3 linked regions of the Homo sapiens genome follow. The protein of the gene in region 2 interacts with the protein of the main gene of each other region in a biochemical or structural test. Each region holds a gene or a part of one and is shown on either strand. Other genes may lie near its edges.

The links. The genes of interacting proteins can lie anywhere in the genome.
Region 1: the proteins of STAT1 (region 2) and MCM5 form a complex in vitro, tested with the Homo sapiens proteins (2 studies listed by BioGRID).
Region 3: the proteins of STAT1 (region 2) and SIRPA form a complex in vitro, tested with the Homo sapiens proteins (one study listed by BioGRID).

Annotation. Positions count from the first base shown.
Region 1 is NC_000022.11:35,409,915-35,417,636, forward strand, and holds part of MCM5 (DNA replication licensing factor MCM5), read left to right. Parts: intron 1-829; coding exon 830-996; intron 997-2,595; coding exon 2,596-2,767; intron 2,768-3,960; coding exon 3,961-4,072; intron 4,073-5,914; coding exon 5,915-6,058; intron 6,059-6,424; coding exon 6,425-6,490; intron 6,491-6,723; coding exon 6,724-6,900; intron 6,901-7,722. UniProt on the Homo sapiens protein: Acts as a component of the MCM2-7 complex (MCM complex) which is the replicative helicase essential for 'once per cell cycle' DNA replication initiation and elongation in eukaryotic cells.
Region 2 is NC_000002.12:191,010,636-191,018,954, forward strand, and holds the start of STAT1 (signal transducer and activator of transcription 1-alpha/beta), read right to left. Parts: upstream 3,537-8,319; 5' UTR 3,383-3,536; intron 3,044-3,382; 5' UTR 2,890-3,043; intron 1-2,889. UniProt on the Homo sapiens protein: Signal transducer and transcription activator that mediates cellular responses to interferons (IFNs), cytokine KITLG/SCF and other cytokines and other growth factors.
Region 3 is NC_000020.11:1,912,182-1,919,903, reverse strand, and holds part of SIRPA (tyrosine-protein phosphatase non-receptor type substrate 1 isoform 1 precursor), read right to left. Parts: exon of another isoform or gene 5,582-7,722; coding exon of another isoform or gene 5,503-5,581; intron 4,806-5,502; coding exon 4,449-4,805; intron 1-4,448. UniProt on the Homo sapiens protein: Immunoglobulin-like cell surface receptor for CD47. Acts as docking protein and induces translocation of PTPN6, PTPN11 and other binding partners from the cytosol to the plasma membrane.

The DNA.
Region 1 (7,722 bases), on a different chromosome or scaffold from region 2:
CATGCAGATTACGTAATCAGGATGTATGATTTTCCAAGCAGTTCATGAATCCTGAAAACTTACGAAGTGGGTATGGGAAGAGGGGAGTTGGAGGCTCATGGAGTGACGGTGATGGTCTTTTCTGGAGCTGTGATGCCTGATGGTATAAAGCACTTCTATGTCTGCTGCCTCACCTGACTCCACAACATGAGAGGCAGGCCACTTCGTCATCCCCCTAGGCTCAGAGGTGCAATGACTTCGTTGAGGTCACACAGCGACTAAGTGTCCCTCCACACCACCCTGTCTCTGACTGGGGGACTTGGAGACTTCCCTGTTTCAACATCTCATTTTGAAAACAGGAAATGAAAACCCAGAGGCAAAATGAGCTCACAGAGCCATGAAGAGGCAAAAAGGGCGAGTGGCCCCTCAAGGAGGCTGGGGGGCGTGAAGAGGAAGTCTTGCCCTGAGAGGCTAAAGGGCACCACACAGTGAGCTGACAGCAGACACGTGGAGATGGGGCTTTTGGAGGGCTCTGTGGGCTGGCACTAAGCCTCCTAAACCAGCGTACAAATGAGTTAGCGAGTTCAGCGAGAGTCAGGCCACCACCTGCCTTTCTGTTTGGCTGTCACTGTGGGCAACACCATCCTCCAAGCAGCTGAGCATGGGCTGAGTGACGTGGGGAGAGAGGCCGTTCTCTGGGCTCCGTGGGGCTGGAGCCAGCTCAGCATGTGGTGCCTGTGGCAAAAATGCTGCAGTGGACCCTGCGTGTCCTGGGCATGGGTGGAATCAGAGACTTGCTGTCCAAGTCAGAATCTCAGCTTTTCTCCTTTCTCCTCTACCCTCCTCTCAGGTACCTGTGTGACAAGGTCGTCCCTGGGAACAGGGTTACCATCATGGGCATCTACTCCATCAAGAAGTTTGGCCTGACTACCAGCAGGGGCCGTGACAGGGTGGGCGTGGGCATCCGAAGCTCCTACATCCGTGTCCTGGGCATCCAGGTGGACACAGATGGCTCTGGTGAGTTGGCTTTGGGGTCCTGGCTTAGCCCTGCTAAAAGGCTGTGCTTGCATACTTCTGGTAACAGGCAGCTCGTTACTTCATGAGGTAGCCCAGGATGTCCTTGTGTTGCTCATATCATTAGAACGTTCATTTTTATATTAAGTGATCCCTGGAACTTCCACACATTGGTCCTAGCTGTGGCTCCTGGGCTGAGGGTGTTTGCCTAAGTGCAGGATTAAGGCAGAAGGACTGAGGTCAAATCACTGGGGAATTACTGAAAGCCAAGTCTTCACTTCTGTGACAGGAAATACAAGAGAAGTGAAACGCAGGGTTCCAGGCAGGCAGCCGCCTAGTGTCTAGTTGGAGAAATAAGAAAACTGTGAGACCGCTGGGGACATGTGGGTAAAGTGGTGGCTGTTGTGGGTCACGCAGTTCCAAGGAGGTGCTAAAGGAGGTCTGAGAAGGAGGAGGTCGGGGCTGGGCCTTGGGGAAGGTTTTCTGGGAGGAGGTTAATCTGAGCTGGGCTTTGAAGAGTGGTGGATGTGGAAGAACTTCCAGGCGGGAGGGGATGGCAGGAGCAGGTGAAAACCCCGGCCTGGGCAAGGTACTGAGTGGCTGGAGGGCCGAGTGGGAGTCTAGGGGATGAGGGGCCAGGTGGTGTAAGAGGCCTTGAGTGCCGAGATGGGGAGCTCCTGCTTACACCTGAGGGCAGCAGGGGCCACTGAGGGTTTTCAGGTTTGTTTCAGCCCTCTGGCTGCAGTGAATTGATTCAGAGGGGTGGCTTCCCCAGGGCTCAGTCCATGGCCCACCCCACATTTACACAAACTACCTAGATTATTACAACTTTAAAACCACTGACAGGTAAGTAGCTCTCACATTTCCATTTCTAGCCTGGGCTTCTCCCCACGTTCCAGACTTTAATAACCAACTGCTGATTTGACATGTTCACTTACATATCTGAAAGGCATCTCGAACTTTACATGGCTGAAGCTAAGCTCCCCTTTCCCCACCCTCAGACTGGCTCCTCTCAGTCTTCCCATCTTCACCCTTTCAGTTGCTCAGACAAAAACCCCCAAGTCACCCTTGGTGCTCTTTTCTCTCATCCCCCACATCTAATCACTCAGGAACTCTGGCCAGCTCCACCTTTAAAACGTGTCCAGGATCTGACCACTTCTCATCCTCCCCACCTGCTCTGAGCCCTTGTCAGCCCTCCCTGGATCACCGTTGATCCTCCCCAGTGTTCGTCTCCACCTTGCCCTACCTTCTCTGTTCTGCAGCAGCCAGTGAGCGATGCTGTCATGACCAAGACACTATATCACTCCTCGGCTGAAAGGGGAGACCTTCCAGTGGTTTCCAAGGTCCTATGCCATCTGGCCCTCTGTTTGCTCAGAACCCTTCTCCCCACTTCCCCTCACCCTTTGGACCCTGGAACACACCAGGCCCATTCCTGAGGGCTTGAGAGCTGGGATCTCTGTTTACTCAGATAGGTTGTGCTGTCCTGGCCCTAAGGGCCCTAAGGGCTCTGCCTTCTGGGAGGTCCCTGAGCTGGTGCCAGGATGGGCAGTGGGCTGGAAGAGCTCCCTTGTACTCACTCATGCGCCTGCTTTGCCTACCAAGGCCGCAGCTTTGCTGGGGCCGTGAGCCCCCAGGAGGAGGAGGAGTTCCGTCGCCTGGCTGCCCTCCCAAATGTCTATGAGGTCATCTCCAAGAGCATCGCCCCCTCCATCTTTGGGGGCACAGACATGAAGAAGGCCATTGCCTGCCTGCTCTTTGGGGGCTCCCGAAAGAGGTAGGGGCTTGAGTTCCCTTGGGTTTGGGGAGGCGGCTGATGATGGGGCTCACAGTAGGATAATTACTGGATAATCAGGACTGGGCACTCTTTTTTGTATTTCCTGGGCCCCTCAGTCTGCCAGGCACCTTTGCCAGCCCCCAAGCTTGCCATCAGCTGGCTAGTGGCTGATCTGCGCACCTGTCTCAGCGATGCCCTGACCCTGGCAAGGGGGAGACTGGGGGCCTGGCAAGTGCAGTGGGAGAGCACTGAGCTTAGGGTCGTGTAGGTACCAGGACTTAAATCTCAGCACTGAGCTTGGGGTCAGTAGCAGGGATATTATTAGCAGCTGCCATTTACTGTGTTCTTCCTATGCACAGCCATTCTTTGTTTTTTTTTTTTGAGACAGTCTCACTCTGTTGCCCAGGCTGGAGTGCAGTGGTGTGATCTCGGCTCACTGCAAGCTCCGCCTCTTGGGTTCACACCATTCTCCTGCCTCAGCCTCCCGAGTAGCTGGGACTACAGGCGCCTGCCACCATGCCCAGCTAATTTTTTTTGTATTTTTAGTAGAGACAGGGTTTCACCGTGTTAGCCAGGATGGTCTCGATCTCCTGACCTCGTGATCCGCCCGCCTCGGCCTCCCAAAGTGCTGGGATTACAGGCGTGAGCCACCGCACCCGGCCGCACAGGCATTCTTCTAAGTGCTTTATGTGTCTGAAGCCCAGTCATTCCTCACAGTAACCTGTTAACGCAGCTGTTGTGCCCATTTTATAGATGAGGGAATTGAGGCATAGAGAGTTAAAGGGACTTGCTCCCCAGCACATGCAGGGGAGCCAGGAGCCTGCTGTCATGGTGCTTGTTCTGCCGCACCGTGCACAGCCCACAGGCAGCTCTCTGTCCTTTTCTTTCAAGCTGGGAGGAACGTTGCTCAGATGCTGGGTGTACCCGAGCACAGCCATAAGAGCCATTTCCTTTAACCCTCCTCTTCTGGGAGGCAAGCTCTGTCCTCATTGCTAGGCAAGACCTACCATGGTTTGGGAACTACAGAGCTGGGTAGGAACATGGGTCTCAGGCCACAGCCACTACCTTCTTACCAACTCTGAGGCCCATGATAGTTGGGGGAGTCAACTGCCAGCCCACCAATCTGGTGACTGGATGTCACATGCGATGCCCTCATGGATTCTCACCTTGTCCATCTACCCTTCGTCCCCCAGGCTCCCTGATGGACTTACTCGCCGAGGAGACATCAACCTGCTGATGCTAGGGGACCCTGGGACAGCCAAGTCCCAGCTTCTGAAGTTTGTGGAGAAGTGTTCTCCCATTGGGGTGAGTGGCCTGGGATACCTTTGCCACCTTGGCTTGCAGGGAGGAAGGCTGCAGGGCAGGGCCTCTGGGTCCTCAGGACACCTGTGGTGGGCTGGCTCACCCGGAATCTCTTCCTCCTTTCTCTTGGCTGCGGTCAGGATGGCCGAGGAGATGGGAGGAAGAAGGGAGCCAACAGGTGTATGTAGGTTTGGGGCAGGGGGCGAGTACACTGTACTGAGAGTCAGGATGGGGTTTGGGTCTCACCCTGGCCAGAAATTGGCTGTGGGCTTTGAGTAAGTCACCCAATCTCCCTGAGCGTCAGTTTATCCATTTGCTAAATAATGATATTGTTATCATTAATAGCTAAAATCTGGCTGGGCATGGTGGTTCATCCCTGTAATACCAGCGCTTTGGGAGGCCGAGGTGGGCGGATTGCTTGAGCTCAGGAGTTTGAGACCAGCCTGGACAACATGGTGAAACCCTGTCTTTACCAAAAATACAAAATAACTAGCCAGGCGTGATATGCACCTGTGGTCCCAGCTGCTTGGGAGGCTGAGGTGGGAGGATCACTTAAGCCCAGAACGGGGAGGTTGCAGTGAGCCAAGATTGTGCCACTGCACTCCAGCCTGGGTGACAGAGTGAGACCATGTTTCAAATAATAATAATAAATAATAATAATAATAATAATAGCTAAAATGAAGGGCCAGACACTGCTTGAAGTACTTTGCATATATTTACTTAGTCTTCACCTCAACTGTGTGGCAGGTACTATTACCCCTGTGTTAGGGGTGAGAAAACTCAGGTACAGAATGGGTAAGTGTCTTGGCCCAGGTCTCACTGCTGGTAAGCATTAGAGCAGGATGTGATTGAACCCAAGTGTCTGATGAGCTGGGTCCTCTGCTGCGTTGTTGAATGGGTCTGCGGGGATCAGAGCCAGAGAAGGTCTGACATGATCCGAGTGGCGGGGTTGTATAGGGCGAGATGGTGGTCTTTGGATAGATAGGAAGTGTGCCAAATTTGCCACACTGGCACTGTCCAGTAGAAATAGTGAACTGCACATGCGACCCATGTATGTCTTCTCAGATTGTCTAACAGCCACATTAAAAAGTAGCTGGGTGCGGTTGTGTGCATACCTGTAGTCCCAGCTACTTGGGAGGCTGAGGTGGGAGGATCACTTGAGCCCAGGAGTTTGAGACCAGCTTGGGCAACATAGCAAGACCCCGTTTCAATTTAAAAGGAAGAAGGGGAAAGAAAAAAGGAAAAACAGGTGAAGTTACTTCTGTTTAACTCGCTATATCTAAAATCTCATTTCAACATGTTGTTTGATATGTAGATTATTGAGATACTTTACATTCTTAGGAGCTCTGAGTCTTTGAAATCGTGCGTATTTTGCACGATTAAGGACATCTCAGTTAGGACTTTCCCAATTTCAGGGGCTCTATGGCAGTATGTGGCGTGTAGGTCTATATAGAGACGACAAGGGACTCACGATGGGGGCAGGCTTTCCCTGGGAGTCAGGAGTCCTCATCCTAGCCCTGAGGCTAACTCCTCTTCTCTGGGCCTCAGTTTGCTCATCTGTGAGTTGGGCCTCACAAGACTGTGTCACAGGGCTGTGGTGAGGCTTAGGTGAGCCATGGATGTGATGCCCTCAGCGGGGAGAACATCTGGGCACACCGAGGCCCAGGGCAGCATCCCCTTCCAGAGGGAGACGCACTGAGTTGGAGCCTTGAGTCCTATTCTGTACCCTGCAGCCAGCTTTGATGTGTGACCTTGGGCAAATCACAACCTCAGTGGGTCTTTTTGTCTTATGGGGGTCAAAGCATGGAGTTGTTATTGGGCCCTGACACCACCCCACTGCCCCAGGTATACACGTCTGGGAAAGGCAGCAGCGCAGCTGGACTGACAGCCTCGGTGATGAGGGACCCTTCGTCCCGGAATTTCATCATGGAGGGCGGAGCCATGGTCCTGGCCGATGGTGGGGTCGTCTGTATTGACGAGTTTGACAAGGTGAGTCTGATGAGGTGGGTAGTAGCCAAAAGGTGGGTGGCACCAGGGTATGTGACTTCCTGTGCTCAGCCAGCAGAAATCACCTCTGACTTGGGAGACATGTTTTCAATCCCTGGGCCGGTCACTCTAGTAACTGTGGGAAGCTGCTTAACCTCTTCAAGCCTCAGTTCCCATATCTGAAGAGTGGGGAGAAGAAAGGCAAGCCCACACAGTTGTTCCCATGATTAGAGGTGACCTGGTTGCTGCCATTGGCCTTGCGTGGAGCTGGTATTCAGGAGTGAGGGCTGCTGTTAGTTTTCCTGTTTCTACTGCTCCCTGCTCCCTCACTTCAGTAGGTCTGATGATATTTCTCTCTTCCCCACTTAGATGCGAGAAGATGACCGTGTGGCAATCCACGAAGCCATGGAGCAGCAGACCATCTCTATCGCCAAGGTGAGTGGCCCTCCATGGAGAGCCCAGCCTGCAGCAGCCCAGCGTGGCCCAACCGTCCTCAGGCTGCCCTGATTGGGACCAAGTTCTCTTTGCCCAGGCCTAGAATCTGTGTGTGTGTGTGTGTGTGTGTGTGTGTGTGTGTGTGTGTGTGTGTGTGTGTGTGTGTGTAAACGTGTATATAAGAAGGCATCTTTGCCATCTCCTCCCCCTTTTCGTCGTCTGTCGCCTGTTAGGCTGGGATCACCACCACCCTGAACTCCCGCTGCTCCGTCCTGGCTGCTGCCAACTCAGTGTTCGGCCGCTGGGATGAGACGAAGGGGGAGGACAACATTGACTTCATGCCCACCATCTTGTCGCGCTTCGACATGATCTTCATCGTCAAGGATGAGCACAATGAGGAGAGGGATGTGGTACGTCCAGGGGCAGGGCTGGTGGCCATGGGACCTGCCTCCAGGCAGGCTTGTGATTGTGTGGGAAGGAGAATGGAGAACAAGGGCCTTGGCTGGCAAAGTCCTGACTGTCAGGCTGTGAAATTGGGGAGCACGTGAGAGGGCGGTTGTTGTGGACTGCAGAGGATTGAAGCAGGGTCTGGAGTCCTGTGGCCTGCTCTGCCTCTGCCGTGAGTGATAAGCTGTGTGATTTGGGCTAAATCAGTTTCTCCCTGGGCCTCAGTCCCTTATATATGAAACAGAGGAGTTGACATTGGGTTATGAGTAATAGAACCTCAGTTCTGGTTAGTAAATTTTTCAAAGAAAAAAACATAGTGGTTTATAGAATTGGTAAGTCCGGCGGCTTAAGGCCCAGGTAGATCTGGATTCTCAAACAACTGTCTCTGCCTTTCTGTTCTGCTTCCCTTGGTGGAATCTTTGTACTTGGGCAGCTGTTCCTCTTGTGGTGGCAAAGACAAAATAAGATTTTGTCCTGTTAGCTTGTAGCTTAACAGCCCCCAGGAAAGAGGAGGCCCCGTCTTTTCCAGTACTTCTATCAAAAGTCCCAGGATAGACTCCTATTGGCTTGGGTAGATCCTATGTCCATGCCCAAGTTGGGGTGGACAAGATACATGCCCCAAGTCGGGGTGGACAAGCTGAACCCACCCCTTTATGGACCAGGGCAGAGGAGCAAGGAGCATTAAGTTCTCTCTAAAGGAGAATCCAGATGCTCCCATCAGAACGAGGGCCTGGTGCTGAGCAAACAGGCTGAGCACGCCTGAGATCTCAGCACCCTTTCCGGCT
Region 2 (8,319 bases):
TCAAACTTCTGTTTTATATTTATGATTCATATGGTAAAATTCATTATTTTTCTTATACACATTTAAAAAGATATATTTTCTTCTTTGCCTACTACAAACAATAAATCTGGCATAAAGAAGTAATGATTTTTAAAGATTAAAACATCATTAAATGTAATTTAAAAGGATAAAGTAACACTTAGCTTTTTGGATAACTGTTAAGTCCATTTTTACATAGTGATCCTAAAGATTCAAAATCACAACAAAAACTTGATATAAGCAAGTCCTAAAATTCATTAGGAAAACGGAGAGTCTCCCATGACCATCATGTAACTTAGGATTTATATCAGCACACAGGTGGCAATATGCAGAGCAGACACAAGTGAATCTTGTCCTGCCAGACCTCTGGGGAAGGAGTCTGGATTTTCAAGTAGGGCATGGAAGAGTGTGTATGCATACTTGTAGCCGAGCACATGTATGCAGGCATGAGGTCACGCCTACTCCACAAATGTCCTTCCAAAGGAGTGTGAGGAAATGTCTGGCCTATAAAGCTAGTTATCCTCATATATACCAGTAGAAACGGACCCAAGCCCAGCCCCTTGGCACTCCTGCTGAAGCAATTTGATTTTTCAGTTCAGTTTTATTTTACCTGAGTGGAAAAATCTGTGGCTGTCTCCCTCCCTGCTTGGTAACTAATAAGGATCTACCTAAAGCAGATATGCTGGACCGTCAGGCAATGGGAGCTGCAACGCCTCTTATTAGCCAAGCGAACCCAGGTAACTTACTCCCCTATCAACAAGGTGTGTGTGTGTGTGTTTAGTAGACAGGAACTTGCTCTGTCATCCAGGTTGGAGCGCAGTGGCAGTGGAGCGCAGTTCACTGCAGCCTCCAACCCCTGGACTAGAGCAATCCTCCCACCTCAGCCTCCCAAGGAGCTCAGACTGCAAGTGATATGGTTTGGCTCTATGCCCCCACCCAAATCTTACCTCGAATTGTAATATAATTCCCATGTGTTAAGGGCGGGACCAGTGGAGGTAACTGAATCATGGGGGCAGTCTCCCCCATGCTGTTCTCGTGATAATGAGTGAGCCTCATGACATCTGATGGTTTTATAAGCCACTGGCATTTCCCCTGCTTGCATCTATTCTCTCTCCTGCTGCCCCGTGAAGAGATGCCTTCTGCCATGCAGAACTGTGAGTCAATTAAACCTCTTCACTTTATAAATTACCTAGTCTCGGGCAGTTCTTTATAGCAGCATGAGAACAGACTAATACAATAAACACGAGCCAAGAAGCCTGGCTAATTTTTAAATTTTCTGTAGAGACAGCCTCTCGTTATGTTTCTGAGGCTGGTCTCAAACACCTGACCTCAGGCAATCCTTCCACCTCAGCCTCCCAAAGTGCTGGGATTACAGGCGTGAGCTTCCGCACCCTGCCACAGTTGGTTCTTAAGGCTGGTTGAGCTAGTACATATGTAGCACCTGGCACAGAAGAGGTGAATTAATAAGCTCATGTTTGGGCTGGCCAGGTGGCTCACGCCTGTAATCCCAGCACTTTCGGAGGCCAAGGTGGGCGGATTGCCTGAGCTCCGGAGTTCAAGACCAGCCTGGGCAACATGGTGAAACCTTGTCTCTACTAAAATACAAAAAAAAATTAGCAGGGCATGGTGGTGTGCACCTGTAGTCCCAACTACTCGTGAGGCTGAGGCAGGGGAATTGCTTGAACCCAGGAGGCGGAGGTTGCAGTGAGCTGAGATCGCGCCACTGTACTCCAGCCTGGGAGACAGAGAGAGACTCTGTCTCTAAAAAAAAAAAACAATGAATAAATAAGCTCATGTTCACAAATCTGGAGTCAGTCTCATCTACTCACAAAACCTGTTACCAACTCAGGGAGTGGCATGGCCATCTCCCAGTCACTGAGCTCAAATCTCAGATTTAGGGTTGATTCCTTCCACTCCATCCCAAGACCTGCTCCTTCCTGTCTCCAACATTCTACCTTCCCAGTCCAGCCTCTGCTGCCCACAGATTGGACCACATCAATCTCCTGTGCAAAAATCCTATGATCTGTCCATTCCTAGGCAGATTTCCACCCCACCCCATCTTCATCCATCAACAAAGCAACCCAGTCACCAAATCATTTACTGTTTTTCAACTGTGCCCAACATTTCTGCTTTGCTCCAGCTACTCGCCCTTGGAAACAGCCTCTCCACAAATTTTTGCGTCTCTAAATCCTATAGCATTCAAAGCTATGTACAAAAGCCCCTTCTTTCATAAAGTTGTCTGAGACTTACTCACAATTAAGCTTTCTTTGACTTGCGTCTCACTGAATTCTGTACCTCTATTAGAGCATCGGTTCCAGTTTTCCTTGTAAAGCTCTGTGATGCCTCCAGAGTCCCCGGCGGGGGAAGGTGGGTGGGGAGGGGGTAGAGTAGTGGGGTATTTTGCTTTTTAACATCTTATGGACCTTGGACAGTGCCCTGCATATACTATGTGCTCGAAACAGTTTGTTGAATTGAAATTATGTATATTTCAGACGGAATTAGAAAGTAAAAAGCAAACCATATTATGATCTCACAAGTGTGAGTCCAGCATCCTCATTAAGCAATGGTTGCACAATGGACTGTGCTGGAGGCTCAAGTCCTGTTTCTGTTCTATGAAAATAACTCCTTATCTATACAAACAACATTCAAAGCACAATCAACCACACCTCTGCATACCTACCACAGAACTCTTCAGTACCGGCCAGAAATTTTTTTAAGACTATATTATTTTGGGGTGGGGGGTCTGCAAAAACTAAACATCACTTTTAAACTCTAGGAAGACATTAAGCCCTTCCATCTTTGAACATAGAAACATAATTAAGATTCCGAAGTCATGTACTCATTCATCTGATTCCATGAACATTTACTGACCTGCCACCTTGTGCCCCAACAAGGGCCTGGGGATTCAACCAAAGGAGCAGCTACGCACAGCACGTTAGGTGCCAAGACTGTCGAGGTTATATACACAGAGTGCGAACGTTAACCTAGACAGCTCTCGAGGATGGCATACAGCAAATGAAACTTTCTGCGAAAAGAAGAAAACGTGACTGATGGAAAGGGGTGGAAACGGGAGAAAGTGACGGTAAATGGGAAGGTGCAGTGCCTTCTAGAGGAAAATTATATTTCACAAGTCCTCTTCACTGCCAGAGCACGACTGGCAAGGACAATCGTGCTGAGCAGTGCCATCTCCGAGAACAGGTGGCACTGCTCGCACTTGGAATACTCAGGACGCGTTCTTCCTCTGGGATCACTATTCGCGGGTCAGCACAGACGGCCCGTCCTCGCCCGGCGTCCAACTGCACGGCCCGAGGACTCTGTCCCTGCGCGTCCCACCCCCGGCACCCGGAACCTCACGGCCACTCACTCTGCGCGCAGGATCCGGAAGGGCTAGGCGGGGGCGCGGCGGTGCAGCCTCTCCCGAGCGCGCTGGGTCGCCTCTGCTCGGTCTGGGGTCTGCCAGGCGCGATCCCCCCGGTGCAGCCGAGCCCCTCCGCAGACTCTGCGCAGGAAAGCGAAACTACCCGGCAGGAGAAAAGGCAGCGCTGGCGCCCGGCCCCCTTCCGCCCCCACCAATCACCGGGCGGCTCCGCGCTCAGCCAATTAGACGCGGCTGTTCCGTGGGCGCCACCGCCTCCCTCTGCGGGCCGCTGCTCCGCCCACGCGCTGGGGTATTTCCGCCGGCTTCCGGCGGGGGCCGCCGGCTGGGTGAGCTGCAGCCCAGTCCCGTGTTGCCACGCTGGGAACTGGCGTTCTGTTTACATATCTTAGAGAACGATCAGAAGGACGTGCTGTGTTTGCAGAAGCCCAAACTTGGAGGTCTCTGTAGTAGTTTCATCGCCGAGAATCCAGGCAGAGGACAGATTTGGCGACGTCGTCATTCTAGAAGCTCCCTTTAGCAACTGACCTCCGTGTTGCTAAACCCAGGGAACGCTTTTCTGTTTTTCTCACTTTACTTGACAGCTCGGAAGCATGGGGCAGAGTTGACGCCTTTGTTCTTGAAACACGTTTCTTCCTTGGTCATGATGATAACACATCCTTCTTGCTTTTTCCTGCCTCTGGCATTCTTTCTACATTGCCTCCACCTCCACTATCAAACCATTATATGTTAAGGTTGTCAGGGTCCAGACATTCGTCAGCTTCTTTACCTGGGCTTCTCCTAAACGCTGTGCTGTGATGACCTCACCCACAGCTTCAGTTTCCTTCTAGATGGAGGAGTCTTAAATGCTTATCCCGTCCACACCTCTCCTCTGGGCTTCACACCTACAACTCCCACTTGCCTCTCCACTTGTATGTGCAGTGAGCTCTACAAACTATGTTCAGAACCAAACATCTTTCTCCTCAAACCTGCTCTTTTTCTAGAAATGGCACATGACAGATACCTAGGATTCATAGTTGACATTGCCTTCTCCCTCACCTCGCAACACCTGATCCTCAAATCTTAATTGATTCTTCCTCCTAAATATTTCCCAAGTCTCATTTACTCTGCTCCATCTCTTCTGCTGCCTCCTTCTGCAGTAGATTCCCGAATGGCTGCCTCACTTCAGCCCTTATCTACCTTTTAATCCATTCTCCATACAAGAGTTTGAGTGTTTTTTTTTTTAATTGAAAAGCAGATCATGTCATTTGCCAACCTGAAAATCCTTCCATGGCTTTTCTTTGCTCTTATAAAATTCAGTTTCTTAATACATACTATAAAGCCCTGGTTGCCCGATCTCTTTGTCCAACCCCATAATGTGCCACTCTGCTTTGCTTACTTCAGCATTTAGTTCTTCAAATAAACCACACTCTCCAAACTCAGGGACTTCTCACCCTGAGTTTGGAAAACCCCTTGAGCCAACATCTGCTTCACCCAACTCTTCGCTGGCTAACTCATCTTTTAGATCTTAGTTTAAAAATCTCAGCTTAAATGTCACTTCTCCAGGTAGGCATTGCTGAAGCCAGACAAACTAAATCTTTTTGGACTATATGCTCATAAAATCAATTAGTTCCTTCAAGTAGACGGGATTTGAGTCAAGCCTTGAATAATTAGGCACTTTGGGGTAGGAGAAGGATCTGAATAATTTCCCATGGATATGCCTATATGTGTGTGTATGAGTTTTTTTTCTTTGCACATCTATTTGTTCTTCTTGTCACAAATGCACCCTCACAAAGCAAGTTAGCAGTGAAATTAGACTTCTCTGCCAAGAGATGCCACGGCACCAAAAGTGTCCCTTCTGCTCTTACTCACCCAAGAACCAAGACAATGTTTTACTGTTCTCTGAAAAAAGCTGTATTAATCCATTTTTAACGCTGCTAATAAAGACCTGAGACTGGGCAATTTACAAAATAAAGAGGTTTAATGGACTTACAGTTCCACATGGCTGGGGAGGCCTCACAATCATGGCGGGAGGCAAGGAGGAACAAGTCACATCTTTCATTGATGGCGGCAGGCAAAGAGCTTGTGCAGGGAAACTCCCATTTTTAAAATGATCGGATCCTCGAGACTCATTCACTATCACAAAAACAGCGCAGGAAAGTCTCGCCCCCATAATTTAATCACCTCCCACCAGTTTCCTCCCATGACAGGTGGGAATTGTGGGAGTTATCATTCAAGATGAGATTTGGGTGGGGACACAGCCAAACTATATCAAAAGTTGACTCTAGGAAGGGTAGATTACATGTTAAAAATTTTTTTTCTGGTACTATAAAACTTGCACAGATATTAGCTTCAATATTGATGAAGGAATGGAATAATCCTAACATCTGCAAATAGGATTATTTGGCACTCCAAATCCCAATTTGGATCATCAAGATCTGTGGATGCTTCCTTCCCTACCCCCCTTTATTTTAGCATCCACAGCAATACCTACCATAAGCCTTCATCACTTGAGAATTGGAATGCTATGCTAATCTCTAGGTATACTACCTTTTTCTTGTCTCTTTCTCCTTCACTATATTTGCCAAATTCAATTCCTTAAAATACTGCATTGATATAGTCATTCCCTGCTCAAAAGCCTTAACAACTCTCCTTGCACATATGATAAACACAAATGTTGTCTGCTAGTCTGGATCCTCCACAAAATGTTTCTTTCCTTCTTTCCAGCCTTTTCTATCATTGTCGCATTTCCCAACTAACCTCGTCTAGCTCCAGCACTCCCCCCATGCTTTTAATTTCCTGATTTCTGCCCCTTTGTACATACTGAATGGCAAGTCTTGCTCCTCACTCTCTTCACTTACCAAATTCTTATTCACCTGTTAAAGCCCAGCCCAAATACTATATTCTCTTTCTAGAACCACCTCAACCTGTAGCAATTAATCTGGGGTCTCTGAATGACCAAATAATATATGTGTCTCTATTTATTTGGACAATAACTATACACTCTCTAATATTATGGTTTTTGAAGTGTCCAATCCTTATGCCTCCAAGATTCAATATTCCTGAAGGATAAACTATTTATATTTTCTTACTGTATAACATATTGACTGCTTCAAAAAGCAATCAAACCAAAGCCAAACAAAAACCTAGAAATCCAGAATTTGACAGATACAAATGTGTGACGGTTGCCTTATAACAGTCAGCTTGGAAAGCTATATCTATATATCAACAATGTCAGATTTGCAAAAGACACAAAACTAGAAAAAACAGCTAACACTATGTCTGTAGATTGTACTATTTTCAAATCTCTTCTGTCCCTTCCCACTGCTTGCCATGGTTCACTAAGGGTGGAGTATACCTCTCTGTGTGCTGTAACTCTGACCTTGGCTATGTGACTTGTTCTGGATAAAGGAATATGAACAGTTGTGATGTATATACCATCTGTCCTGAAACTGCGTGTTCTTTGTAATCAACTTGTTCTTGTGTGCTCCTTCCCTCTGCTAGGAGACAGCATGCCTCAGGTTCCCACGCTAAATCAAAATTCTAAATAATCTAAATATTCTAACGGACTGCTGCTGGTCTGAAACCAACTGGATACTATGTATGTATGTATATATGTATGTATGTATGTATTGATGACAGAGTCTCGCTCTGTCGCCCAGGCTGGAGTGCATTGGTGCAATCTCGGCTCACTGCAACCACCGCCTCCTGAGTTCAAGCGATTCTCATTCTTTAGCCTCCCAAGTAGCTGGGATTATAGGCCTACATCACCAAACCCGTCAAATTTTTTGTATTTTTAGTAGAGTCAGGGTTTTGCCATGTTGGCCAGACTGGTCTCACACTCCCGGCCTCAGGTGATCTGTCTGCCTTGACCTCCCAAAGTGCTGGGATTACAGGTGTCAACCACTGTGCCTGGCCTCAACTGGATAACTTTTTTTTTTTTTGAGACCAAGTGTCACTCTGTCGCCCAGGCTGGAGTGCAGTGGCGCGATCTTGGCTCACTGCAACCTCCCCCTCCTAGGTTCAAACGATTCTCCTCCCTCAGCCTCCCATCAACTGGACAACATTTAAAACAATAAATGCAACTACTTGTATTGGATTTAAAAGAGCAACAAATGACAGGGTACACTGTCACCAGCAATCAATCAGAAGCAACAGGTAAGGTGAAATTTCCTATTTGCCACCCCTGAACTGGTGTACAGACAAAGGAGAGTCAAGGACAGTGAGGAATCCAGAAAATACTATTATATGATGAGTAACTGATGTGAAGTCACCGGAGTAACTCATAAGTTCACATGATGTTACAGTAGAAAGACTTAAGAACTACTCCACACTTCCCATTTGGAGGAACTGTATTTTGCTTGGAGAAAAGACAGTATCATTCCTATTCTTCACTCACTGTTTCTTTTATACCCAAATCATCCAGTTCTATTTACTTAGTTTATCTGCCTTGTTGCACAAAGCATTTTAAAGCAACTTATAGCAGAAATATCTACAATAACTAGATAAAGAATACAGTACAGCCTGCAAACCAGGGCAAAAAGATATCAGTTACGTAGTTTTCATTATATGAAACTGAAACTAAGAAGGCTCTCCTGATCAATGATTTTCAATAATGGCCAGATTATTCCCTGCTCTGTTATTTCCCCACCTTGCAGCAGATGTGACATTGTGACATTTAGAGTCTAGGCCTCAAGAGGCCTTACACACTCCGCTCTCAAAACCCTGCCCAGCCTCCATGAGAAGTCCGGCTAGCTTGCAGGAGCATGAGAGACCACACAGACCACAGTTGAATCACAGTAGTTGTTCAAGTTTAGACCTCAGATTTATGAGAGAACCCAGGCAAGATAAAGTGGGGGCCTGACCCAGGTGAACTGAACTCCCCAGCATACCCTAGACTCACAAGCACTGATAAATGGTTGATGTTTTACCAAAGTTTTGGGAAT
Region 3 (7,722 bases), on a different chromosome or scaffold from region 2:
CACCAAGAAAAGGCTCAAACCCTGCTCCCTGTGGCTCATGACAAACCCAAATGATACAAGGAGCAGAAACCACCAAGTGAGGATTCTCTCCCCTTTTCTAAACAATCCCCTCAGGAAACAAGTTTGGCGAATTGGCTTTCAAAACACAAGATCACAGGCGCCTCCCTCCAGAAGAGCCATTTACAGAAGCTGGAAGCATTTTAAAGGAGGAGGGAACAGACTCCTCCGTGACATCTTGGTGTGTCGAGGCAGGGAGGGTTCTGGGGCCGAATTGGAAGGATTTGCTGGGATTCCGGCGGTCATTTAGACAAAAACATTTTCAGGATGGAAGGTTTCCCCACACTGAGGCTGGATCTGAGCAGGGCTTTGTCTGGGGCCCCTACCTTGGCCCCCGAGGCCTGTATCATAAGAGGGGGTCTGGCCAGGCCACTGGGGCCTCCAAAGAGCTGTCCCGGGTGCACGTTGTTCAGAAGCATCCACACCCTGAAAAGCTGTTCTCCCATCTGGCACCCCAAGAGGACCATCTTTTCCAACTTGTCCTCCGTGACCTCTGGGTGTCTATCCCAGGGGTTTTCAGTCCTGACTCTGTATTAGAATCTTCTGGATTAATTAAAAACTTTAGATGCCTAGGCCCATGCCAGGCCAATTGAAGAGGCATTTCTGTGGTGGAGCCTGGGATTTATTTCAATGTTTCCCAGATGATCCTAAAGAGCAGCCAAGATTGAAAACTACCTGAGTACATCCTAAGGACCATTTATCCTTGAGGCCTGGAGGAGCACTAACCCATCTGAGGTTGCATGGCTTCAGCATCACACAGCTCACATCTGTTGAACATTGACTGCAGGCCAGGCGCCTGCTGCCCTAAGCACGCTACAGGATTTAACTCATTCGGTCCCAACTCCTGGTCTGTGAGGTTGGTGTTATCACTGACAAGTGAGGACACTGAGGCCCATGGTGGTGGAGTGCCTTGTCCCAGGTCACAGAGCCAGGAGGTGGCAGAGCTGGGATGTGGCCCAGGCAGTTGGACTCTGGCCACACTCTCCTAACCACACTTCTGCAGGAGCTCAGTGATAACCCGAACACCGCCACCATTCCGAGGCTCTGTACATCCTCTCCAATCCTCACAGAACCTGTGAGGGTTGGCAATCATCATCATCATTTCATAGACAGGGAAGCTGAGGACTCAAGGGAAGCCAGGATTTGCCCAAGATCACATGACCTTGGGAAAACCCCATTGCTTACTAAGGTCTATCGTCGCCCCAGGCTCATTGCATCCTCATAACATCCTGGAAAGGTTGGTACAATTATCGACGTTCTACGCATGGGGAAACTGAGGCTCAGCAAGGGGAACTGGGTTGCCCAAGGTAACACATCTTAAAATAACACCTTGATGGCAGGGCGCAGTGGCTCACACCTGTAATCCCAGCACTTTGGGAGGCCGAGGTGGGGGGATCACCTGAGGTCAGGAGTTTGGGACCAGCCGGGCCAACATGATGAAACCATGTCTCTACTAAAAATACAAAAAAAAAAAAAAAAAAAAAAAGCTGGTGTGGTGGTGGGTGCCCCTGTAATCCCAGCTACTTGGGAGGTTGAAGCAGAATCGCTTGAACCCAGGAGGTGGAGGTTGCAGTGAGCCGAGATGGTGCCATTGCACTCCAGCCTGGGCAACAAGAGTGAAACTCCATCTCAAAAAAAAAGAAAAAACAAACAAACAAACAAAAAACCTTGATTTGGGGGTGTCTACTCTGCATTGGGTGTTTTATACACAGGAACTCAAATCCTTTCCACTCTGCCAAAGGAGTCCCTGATTATCACCATTCTACAGATGAGGAAACTGAGGCTGAGAAAAGCGAAGGCACTGTCTCCTCATCCCTCATGTACCCAATGGGCATTTCCAGTGTTCCCCAAGCTCTCATGTCAATCAATTGAGCAAGTGCCTGAACTTCATGAACCCTGACACTGACCACCACCTTCCCTTTTTCCCTTTGAGATCCCTGACTTCATGCAGTTCTAGGGAGAAGCCTCCCTCCAGGGTACCCAGATCTGGTTACCCTATAGCCATAAACTGAAGTCAGTGGGCTCCTGACAGCCTGAGGGGATAATATAAACTCTTGCTCCAATGAGCCCCAAGCACCCACCAGGAAATGCCTCATCTCCTCATCCTTAGTCCTCAGCACCGTGAGTAGGTGGGCACGTGGTCTGCTGGGCTGCAGGAGGCCCAACTCTGCTCCATGGATGCTACTCAGTGATGTGCTGAGACCTGTCCTTTAGGAACAAGTTCCCATATCATGAGACATCTGCAGGACCTTTCTGATGGGGGCCAGTCCCTCCTACTCCCATAGGACTTGTTTTGTTTTTTCTTTCAAGACAGAATCTTGCTCTATCACCCAGGCTGGAGTACAGTGGTGCGATCTCGGCTCACTGTAATCTCCGTCTCCTGGGTTCAAGCATTCTCCTGCCTCAGCCTATGCTTATTGCTATAGAACTGCAAGAGTTTGGAATGAGTAGGGTGGAGCATTTCTCCACACTTTGACAAGCATAGCTGAGTGTTACAGAGACAGGGGCTGTGAGTCAGGCTGGTGGGGATCAAACCTTGGCTCCCCCACTGGCTCACCACACAGGTCTCCTCTCTGAGCCTCAGAGTCCTTATCTGTAAAGGGGGCAAGAAATGGCTCTTCCTTCATAAGTACTTGTTATAAAAGGAGAAAGTGCCAGGATGAGGATCCAATCCAGCTGCTGCTCCCTGGCCCCCTCCCACCTCCCTCCTTTCTCATCCAGGGCATCATTTAGGCTGACAGCATGGCAAAGAGGAGTGAGCACTCTGCTAGGAGTCAGCAGATCTGGGTCACACCTGAGCCACGTATTTGCTGTGATTGTCTAGGCACGAGATGCATCATCTGGGAACTTCAACGTCTTTTCCTGTAACATCTGCACAATCAGGATAAAGCCACCCTCCCTGCCTATGTCCAGCGGTTGTGGGGAGACTTGATTGTTATAATGTCTAGGAGGGAAATTAGGCCATATCCACACACATTAAAACACACACCCCCTCTGATCTAGCAATGGCACTTGCAGTGGGCGTCTCCCACCTGAGTAAGGTCACACATGTATAAGGTCATCCACTGCAGGACTGTTTTAATAGTTCAAGTTTGGGGACAAGTTACGTATCCATCAATGGAAGATGGTAAAATAAATCTGGTATTTCCATAAGCTGGAGTATTCTGTAGCTATTACACAATGGAGCAGGTCTCTATCCTGATATGAAATCTCAGTATCAAATGATATGGCTTACATTTGGGAGCGGTTTTCCAATCACCAGTGGGCCTAACGGTCTGAATGTGAATATTCTGAACCTTTAGGAAACTGATGGAAAGGAGAAGTGCTGGCTTCCTGCTTAGCAGTTCTGTTCAAGGAGCTTTCAGTCGGCACCTATGATGCACCAGGCTCTTCTATGTAAACAATGGCTAATGAAGGAGCCTCCCTGGAATCAGATGTGGGCTCTGGTCCAGATCCTGTCACTAACTGGGCCTATGACTGTGGACAAGGCCCCTGTCATCTCCTGACTTCAAGTTTCCACCTGTAACTAGGGGTTGGGCTGGATGGTCTGAGGGTCCTTCCTGTACTAATGTCCCAGGATTCGGAGTTAGAACAAGGATCCTGGGGCTCTGGCAGTAAATACAAAATGAGCATCTTTGCTGCCTTAACGGAGGAACCCAAAGTCACCTAGAAGGGAGACCTCCTCCCTGGGGTGAGAGACATTCTATGATGACCCAGCTTTGTTCAGAGCCTTTAGTGACGCATGAATCAGTCCCTAAATCACACAAGTGTTTTTCTAAAAGACCCACAGAAAATGCCCAACCCTCTGGCTTCTCCTCTCACCAGGGCCATCAGATTAAACAGTAAATCTGTGCCTTTTAGGAATCTTCTCAGTTGGTGTTTGGTGATGAAATAAAGGAAACACACCCTCTCTGCTCCCTGCCCTGGGTGGATCTCTTATTGGAAGGGATGAGAACACAAGCTTGGCGGAGCCTGGCACACAGTAGGTTCTCAGTGAGTGCCTGTCACATAGAGGAGACTCGGCTGCCCTGAGAGGGAAGTGCTCTCTGGAGGCAGCAGGTGAGGTCTGGTCCTGTGCCTGGGCAAGTCACACTATCTGTCAGTTTCCTCATCTGTGGAATGAAAGGGCTGGGTCAGCTTTGAAGAGGCCAGGGCTACACAGCCAGGCAGATGAAGGATGCAGATGTTCCCACCCTTTACCAGCTGTGGAGCCTTCAGCAAATAGCATGACGTCTTCAGGCCTCAACTTCCCTTATTTGTAAAAGGGGGAGACATCAATTCATGGAAAGGAGCACCTACCACCACACCTGATCATTGCTCAAAGAATGGAGGGTGTTATTATTGAGTTACTGTCACAAACCAGAGGCAAAGGAGGCCCACGCTGTACTCACCGCGCACAGACAGCTCAGTGCCTGCTCCAGACTTAAACTCCACGTCATCGGGGCTCCCTTTCCGGAACTTCACACAGTAGTAGGTGCCGGCATCTGCTGGGGTGATGTTACCGATGCGGATGGAAAAGTCCATGTTGTTTCTCTTTGTGAGGTCTGAAACAGTTGTTACCCGGGGGAAGTGGCCTTCTTTTTGATTGTAGATTAATTCCCGGCCTGGTCCAGCTCCTCTGAACCACTGGATGGGCCCCACAGGGATCAGAGAGGTCGCAGTGCAGCGCAGAGTGGCTGTCTCTCCAGCTGCAACCAACACGGACTTGTCAGGCTGAATCACCTGCAGCTCCTCCTCACCCGCCACTCCTGGAAAGGAGCACAAAGCAGTCATTTTTTCATCCTTACGTGATCCTCTGTGTTTCCTCAAGTGTTTATCAATGACGTTCATTGACTGGATGCACACCAGAAGCAGGCTGTGAGATCAGTATAGTGCATGTATCATCTCATTTGACCCTCACAACAAACCTGCAACATGAGCCTGTATTCTAAGTGGGGACACTGAGGCACAGAAAGCTAAATGACATGGCAGAGAGTGGGTTTGAATGCCTGGACCCTCTCTGGAAGAGTCACATCTGAGCTGGGCTAATTCTAATCTGAATGAGCCAGAAGGGAGCCTGGTATTCCAGACAGAGGGAACAGCCTGGGCAAAGACTCAGAGGTAGGGGCCTGGCATATCTGGGGCTGTACAAGGTGTTAAGATTCTGTTTCTGGCCTGGCCCAGGATGCAGGCCCCGAGAAGGGAGGCTGTACTCAGCGGTTTGGGCAGTAGGAGAATGTAGTTTGAGTTCTGGATCAGTGGCCTATAGCTGTGTCCTTGGGCCACCACTCAGGTAACCAAGAATATCCAATGTAGACTCGTGCCAGTGTGTTTGAGTCCCCACCTGGAACCCAGGACTGAGCCTGGCTAGCAAAGTGTCACACAAATGCAAGAGCTGCCCTTAGTTTGCCCTTACTGCTCTCAGCCTTGGTTTCTTCATCTGTAAAATAGTTACTATGACCCCACCTCGATGGATCTCTGGGAGGATAAAATAAGCCAAGGCTGGGGACAGCGTCCAAATGCAGCATCTGGTCTTTAGAGTCATCGGACCTGGTTTGAAACCTGGCTCGCCCCTTGTTCTTGTGGGACCTTAATTTATCCATCAGTTTTGAGTCTCAGTTTTCTTATCTACAGGATGGGTAGAACAGCCCCCAGGCCTCTGCTTTGTTCTGAAAAGAAAACGAGATCACACATAGAAGTCACTTAGCCCTGAGATGGGCCCTGAGGAAGTTGTTGTTACTATACATTGAATAAACAAGGAGGTGGCTGTGGCTCAAACTTCACTCTCACCAACACCTGCTGATGCCCTGTGATCCAGGCCTCACTGTGATGGGGACACACTGGAGCTGGACCCAGTCCAGGCCTCAAGGGCTCCCAAATGGGCAGCTGGAAGGAATTGTAGAGGTTGGCTGCAGGAGCCTGAGCCCCAATCAGAGACACTGGGGCACACAAGACAGGGACCCTGGGTGGAGAGATTGGGGTGCACGGGGGGAGCCCAGACAGGAAGAGGGCAGGACGAGCTTGTCATGAGATGCGTTGAAGATGGATAGGGACCAAGTGAGAACAGTTCAGAGCAAGGCAGAGCCAGGGCCTCGATTCTGAACAAGGTGAGGTACAAGAAACAAAAAAAAGAAAGATCATGATCATAAAGACCTCAGAGAAACACATGCCTGAGAGACAGACGCAGAGTGAGAGAGCGAGCTAGAATAGGGGAGAAGGAGAGAACCAGGTAGACAGAGGAGTGGCAGCTACCTGGTATGCAGGTGACAGGTGACCTGGGGCCCCAGTTGGGCTCTCCACTGACCCTTCATGTGACCTTGTCCTGCCCTGACCTGGGCCACCTTTGCCTTGTACATCAGACAAGGCTGCGGCAGATGTCCAGAGCTGCTGTGCCCCTCTGGCTCTGGCTGGGGAGGAGAGAGACCCTGTGAATTTGCCCACCAACCCATGGCCTGGCACCACCCCACTGGCAGGGGCAGGGCAGCCAGGGAAAGAGGCTCACAGACCCCTATCTGCCCTCACTGCAGGAAGCCCAGGGCTATCTGCCCATTGTCCTGCCTCTTTCTCCCATTCCCAGCCTCACCCAGTCTTGACTCTGGCAAGGGATCACCCTTGGGGCCCGGTTCTCATGGCAGGTGAGTGGAGTCTCAGAGTGCCTAAGACCACTCCACCTGCTTTGGGTGTAAATATTACCATTTCGACTTCCTTTTCCTGATCAACCACTTAAGACCTCAACTGCTTTTATTATCAGGAAGTCCAGCTTCTCATTTCATTTCCATTTGAAGTTGAACATGGCAAGATCTTCATGGCACAGGAGAAAAAAACAGAACCCACAGTGGACAGACAGAACCCACAGTGGACAGAGGCCCAGCCAGCATCAGACGGCCTGAGAGGGGTGAGGCTGGTGGCCAAATGTGTGGGAGGCCCGGGAGGCCCATCCAGGCGGGGACATCAGAGGCAGCACCAGCAGCACTGAGCTAGGAACTTTCCGGATAGGTCTGTATTTCAGCCTCGAGACTGGACCAACTGGAAAGGCTGCCTCGGGGAAGCACAGTTGCTAGGGCCAGCAGGCCTGGGTGACAGCATGGCTCCCCTCTTAGCCACCTCTGTACCCACCTTCCCTGGACCCCCATTCCATCATCCATGAAGTGGGGTTCCGGCATCCACCCCAGCACAGTCATGAGGACCCTGACACGGTGGTATGCCTGCTGCATAGGTGCTGGGTAAGTTTTAATTCTTATTCCCATTATTATCACATAGCTGTATTATTCACATATTTGATTTTCTCTGGATTGTCACATTCCCAATAGTAGGATGTAGGATCCACAAGGGACTGTTTCCAACCTCCTGCCTAAAACACAGTGTCATCGATAAAAATATGCAGAATGAATGCGGTAATGAATGAAGGAAGGAAGGATGTCGTTGGCTCCATGACCCTGGGCAAATCTCCTCTCTCTTCATGTGTTAGGTGGAGTTGATACTGGCATATCCAGGGGAGGGTGCAGGCCCGGAGCCCGGGACTCAGCCTGGCTTGCAGTTATTATTATCCTTATCAATAACACCACAAGGGGCTGTGAGTCAGCAGTTGGTGAGGGAGCAGGAGGCGCAGGAGAGGCTGCGGAGTCAGGCGTGCAGCATGTTGGAGCAGGGCTATTCTTGTGGTGCAGCCGGAGGCCTGTAATCACA